2 separate regions of the Homo sapiens genome follow, and region 2 is linked to region 1. Evidence: fine-mapped expression QTL. A gene starts in region 1. The other region holds a variant in brackets. All regions are shown on one strand. Distances are between the middles of the regions.

What was found.
Region 2: its variant is fine-mapped to the expression of KAT14 in whole blood (TOPMed, PIP above 0.99).

The regions. Positions count from the first base shown.
Region 1 is chr20:18,136,269-18,139,181 of GRCh38, forward strand. It overlaps KAT14 (lysine acetyltransferase 14), which reads left to right and starts at 1,595. Exons shown (of 11, transcript NM_001392073.1): 1 at 1,595-1,783. PET117 (PET117 cytochrome c oxidase chaperone) reads left to right here and starts at 1,595. Exons shown (of 2, transcript NM_001164811.2): 1 at 1,595-1,783. The coding sequence starts at 1,688. RefSeq lists a silencer at 1,964-2,083.
Region 2 is chr20:18,164,195-18,167,107 of GRCh38, forward strand. All of the region lies in intron 7 of KAT14 (lysine acetyltransferase 14), which reads left to right. Among named protein-coding and RNA genes, the nearest start is that of PET117, 28 kb to the left of the region's middle. The variant A/G (reference allele first, on the strand shown) is at 1,227.

The sequences.
Region 1 (2,913 bases):
TATACTGCTTAGGCTTATAAATATTTAAACAGATAAACATACTTTTTTTTTTTTGCAAGACCTCCCTCAGTCCCCCAACCCACTTTTTTATTTGACACAGTTAATAATAAATGATTTCTTAAAAGTAGAATACTTTTTTTTTTGCTTCTAGTATCCTGAAAATAAAGAAAAGAGTACATTTCAAGAAAACAAGTTGAAAAATTAGTCACAATAAAATGAAAGGCGATTGATCTAATTCCCTGATGTACACTCTAAGGACATACAGCTCTGTTGAAGGCTCACTGATTTACAGGGGAAAATATCTAGGATATACCACGAATAAAAAGAAGTCTAATATAATTTTTAAAGAGAAATATGCAAATACACCCTGAACTGAATTTCTTCTCAAAGTTCATTACAGCAAGAACTCCATTTTCCAATTCAGTGGTACATTCTCTCTAGGCTGCAAAAAATGCTGTGGACAAAATGACATTTGGAAAAGGTATCTTTAAAGATACCTTTAAGAGCAATAGTCCCCTTATGCCATTTACGCTCACATAAGAGACTGGAATAGCAAAGCACTATGAACAGTAATGAATGTTGTAAAACTCCCTGGTGAGGCTTAATCAATACTGCCTATAGCCGTGTCCACCGGAAGAAGCTCGTTCTCTGTGAATTCTAGTGGGAAAGAATGATTGAATGATGAACACGTTTTCACTGGTTGCTCTATCAGATACTTAAAAGTTTCTGGGAGGCCTTGCCTTTTTTACCCGAGGAAGAAGTGAAAATGCGTCTTGCACAATTGCTTAACTATTCCCAACGCAAGACTTCTTTATATCATTTATTTCCCTTGTATTACTGGCGCGGAAACTTGGGTGTAAAAGTGATCACAAAGATTACATGGGGCCAGGCGCGGTGGCTCACGCCTGTAATCCTCTCGGGAGGCTGAGGCAGGAGAATCGCTTGAATCCGGTAAGGTTGCAGTGAGCCGAGATCGCGCCACTGCACTCCAGCCTGGGCGATAGACAGAGACTCTGTATCAAAATTATAATAATAATAATAATAATAATCCGAGCCTGACCAGTCGCCCCACAGCGTCAAGGTGAAACCAGGTGACCGCGACTACAGCGTTTAATAATGGGTCCTCAGGCAAAAACTCCACGGATGGGAACCCCGCGCCTCTGAAGCTGCCTAACGAGGCGGTCTCCTGGTGGCGCCTGCCCCGCCAAAGGAGCAATGAGGGGGCTGCGTTTAGGCGAAGCCGGTATTGGGCGAAGCTTCTGGATCAGTCAGGGGCTCAGAAGGGACGTCTGTGGGAGAGGGGTCAGCACGGTATCCAGACCCCGCCCGGGGTGAGGTTGGTACTGAACTGACTGAGGGGCATGGAACCCCCACCCTCCACCCTGGTAAGGTGCCGGGGCCAGTTTGGGCCGGGACTCCTAGAATTTGAATCGGGGGTGGTCTAACGCTGTCGCCTGCGGGGTGTGCAGGAGGCCCCTAGTGAAGCCAAGAGTTCGTAGAGCCTGGGCGCCGCTCTATGCTCGGCTCTCGATTGCTCACGCCTGGCAGCGGCGAGCGGCGCACGCGACGGCTGGGGCTCTGCGCTCGAGGGGTCGAGCCTGGGCAGTACAGGCGGCGGTGCGCACTCTGCGGCGGCCTCTGCGCCTCGGGCGGGCGGGAGAGAGAGGCCGCGGCCGCCAGCGTGGGGATGTCTAGGAGCTCGAAGGTGGTGCTGGGCCTCTCGGTGCTGCTGACGGCGGCCACAGTGGCCGGCGTACATGTGAAGCAGCAGTGGGACCAGCAGGTCGGTGTCACGTGACCGTCTCTTCCGGGCCCGCGCGCGCGGCGTCGACCTGGGGCCTCTCGTGGTCTCTGCCCGCTCGGTTCCTCAGCTCCTCTTCGTGTCTTTCCCCCGCGGTGGCGCGGCCCTGCACCCCACGCGTTTGCGGCTGCGGCCGGCGGCCGCTCTGCTGGGCTCCGGGCGCTGCAGCTCCCGGCGGGCGTGTGCAGCCCGCAGATTCAGGACGACCCGGCTGCCCGGCTTAGCGCCTTTGGAGCTCCGCGCTGAAGGGGCCTTGCTCCGCACAGGCACGGCACGCAAGCTTTTGGGGTGCCCAGTGGCTCTGTTTTCAAGTCACAGCCGGCCCGCAGGGTGCGGACCTTTCCACATCTCACTTGGGCCGCTAGAAAATAGAAGGTGGGGAAGGAGTTTCTTGGGGTGCATTCTGCAAGCTACCAGCCTCCCTCCTGGCCCAAGGTTGGGGTTAAAGCCTAATGTGTTTTACGTGCTATTGATTTTATCCCATGGTAAGGGAGCCCCCCTTCCCCGTACTCACTCTCCATGCCTTTGACCAAGATAATTTGGTGAGATGTTTGCACTTCTCGTTTAAATGAACAGTTTGCTATGGAAACTAGAATCTGGGAACGATAGAGATAACAGTCTCCAGATTTTTTTTTTTGGTACTTTTATTTCAGGAAATATCCGTGACCTGCTGATCAGCAGTGACTATTCTGTCCTCTCAGTTCATATTTTCTTTCTTATTCAAGTTGACAGACCTTTAATGGGTGATTACTGTGTGGAAGCTACCTCACTAAGCACCTTGGGAATACAAAGATAAGGAAACTCCACTCTTCCAGAGTCTATCAGTGATTCACGACCTTGCTGAGAACAGGGTCATTGGTGAATTTTCAGAAAACAACTTGGCAGTGATTGGGGTTGAACCTAGTTCACCAAGGGTGAAAATAATGGACTGGATGAATCAAGAGTAAACAGTCTTTTCTTGATTTGCCTACCCAGACCTTTGGACTGTGCTATGTGCTTGATATACAGAGATGAAGTGGATGAGGTCTTTGTTCTTGGTGTTCACAGACTGTGGAAATTAGAAGAGAGGAAGCATGTGATGGTACAAGAATTTTGACGAGGGGTTGAGATGA
Region 2 (2,913 bases), 28 kb after region 1:
GGCCTGCCTACCAGGAGCCAAGTCGGGAGGGCCCAGGAGCCCATCGTTTAGGAGGTAAACTGACTCTCCCTGTCTTCAGTACAGTACTCCCACCCTTGGCTTCCTGTGTCCAGAATCTCCCTCTTGAGCCTCTCCAGTCTTCTGCCCGTGGAGGGAAAGATCATTTCCTAGATGTGGGCAGTATAATTACTATAGGGGTATAATTGGAGCCTTTAACCTCTTAAAGAGCCTCACAATCCATAGTCATACCCCCCAGGCTCTAAGCCTGATGCCTTAGGTGACTACACTTCCCTGAGGCTGTGTTTTGTAAATCACCCTGCTTAGCTTCACCACTGGCTTAGGTATTGGCTTTCTTTGGTCTGTTAAGTCATTTGCTGCTTGTTCATATGCTTTTGTTAGTCATCTATTCACTTGTTCTTGTTCTTTTTTTTTTTTTTTTTGAGACATGGTCTCTCTCTGTCACGCAGGTTGGAATGTAGTGGCACAACCACAGCTCATTGCAGCCCCGAACTCTCAGGCTCAAGCAATTCTCCCACCTCAGCTTCCCAAGTAGCTGGTACTATAGGCACACACTACCACACTCAGCTAATTTTTTTTTTAATTTTTATTTTTAGTAGAGACAGGGTCCTACTATCTTGCCCAGACTGATCTCAAACTCCTGGGCTCGAGTGATCGCCTCAGCCTCCCAAAGTGCTGGGATTACAGGCATGAGCCATTGCGCCTGGCCAATATTCACCTGTTCTTTGTTCTTATTCTTGTGGGCCTGTCTGTTTACTGCCTATACTTAATTTTTTAAATTGTAAGATGTGTCATACAGATAGAAGGCAGCATAGAAATATGGTATAATTTAGATATTAGTAAAATAAATGCCCATGTATTCATCTCCTGGATAAAGAGTGTTGTAAACACCTTAGAAGTCTCCTGTGTACTTTCTGTTCCCCTCAGAGGAAGCCACTTTGACTTACAGTGTTAATTATTCTTTTGCTTTTTAAATGTGTATGTCTCTAAATGATATACTTTTCGTTTAAAAAAATACTGAGTAGCAAGCATAAATCTAGCTGTGTAAGTAAATTGCCACTATTAGATGAAGTTTCCTGGAGAAGATAAGCTAAATAGTCATTCTGGGTCATTGTTGTGGACTGAATTGTGTCCCCCTTAAGCATATGTTGAAGTCCCAACCCTGGTACCTATGAATGCAGCCTTATCTGGAAATAGGCCCTTTGCAA[A/G]TATAATTAGCCAAGACCACCAAGGATTGCCGGCAGCACCAGGAGCTAAGAGAAGGGCACAGAACAAATTCTCCCCTAGTGCGTACCCCAGAGAGCATAGCCCTGCCCACACTGTGACTTCTGACATTTGGCCTCTAGAACTGTGAGACAATAAATTCCTGTTGTTTTAAGCCACCCAGTTTGTGGTGCTTTGTTCCTACAGCCCTGGGAAACTAATACTTACAGTGATGTTCTGGCTTCGGCTTCCATGAACCCCTTCTGAGGTAGTCACTGGCCAAGGTCACTAGGGAGTCCTGGGAAACATGAGGCTCACCATAGCGTATGCATCAGCCAGGGCTGTGATGTATACCAGAGATGCGGCAGAAATCTGGGCAGAGGAAGTGGGATCCTCTGTATTTCCTGCCTGAGCTGACAGCTTCCTTCCAGCTTGCAGAAGGTCAAAGCAGTTATTTGTGGAGTGAGCATCATCAGCTGGTCTTTGGGGTGGGCATGGGTGGTGTACAGGAGGCTCACCTGTACATGGTGAAGACAAGCTGAGCGTAGATAAGATTCTGGGCCACGACGCCATAGGTTTAAAAGATGGTCAGTGGCAGCAAGGACTTAAGGATGATAGCCTCAATATGTGTTAGAAATACCAAAATTGTTAGAAATAGATAATCGGTGCTGCGAAGAAAAGTCAGCACAGAGACAAAAGGTATCTCAGCAAGGCCATCTTTTCTTTCTGTAGAAAGGGTGCTCAGTTGCAGATGGAACAAAGGTGAGAGCACACTTGAACACAGGAAAAGCAGACATATTTATCCCTTACGCACTTGGGTCGTCCTTACTGCTGTGTCCTGCATCCACTGGCTGGAGCGGGACCTCACAATCTTAAACTGATACCCGATTTGCTAATAGCCTAAAACTTTCCTAAATAGGTAAGTGCAGGGAAGAACAAAGAAGTTGCTTACAAAAGGTTTAAGGAAGCAATAACATTTCCAAATAAGGAAGGGGCGTAGACTGTGGGCTGGAACGTGCCTGTGAGCATGTCCAACGGTTACAGAGGATAGGGCTTAACAAAGAGTTATTAGCACAAGGCAAGGAGACTTGAAGAAAGTTAGTCTTTAAAAGAAACTGTTATTTCTAACACTTATGATTTATTCTTTAACAAGAAGGAAAACTTTGAAGAGGAAACTTTTTACTTTCTACACTATGTCTGCCCCTTGGGTCACACTTGTTCACCCTTTGTTGTGAAACTCAGCAGGGGTGTTGGGATCTCCCCTCTCTGGAGATTCTTTTGCCCTCCTCTGTATTTGATCTCCTGTTTCCTGTGGCCCATCTTTACCTTGTTATAGGTTTATTCCCTTGTTCTTAATGACTTCCTGAGAAAAGCTGCATGGGAAGTAAAATTTGAGACCAACATACTGAAAAGACCCTCATTAAGTGAGGTTGAACCTGGAATTCCATACACAGCCACATTGTCTAGGTGAGACCTCTGTTGAGGACCACTGCACTTCCTTTAGGTTTTTTCTTTGAATCTAGTCAGAGTCCCTGGGGAATAATCTTCTGGGCTCAGGATGCTGGTTGCCAAGTTGGGGAAGAGGGACCTTAGCATTCAGCTTGTCAGGTACTCACACCTCAGCCCTCCAGCTGGATCCCCTGTTAGTTCTCTAGAGATCAGACCTCCTGGCTTCTGGGGGAGGGCAGCCAC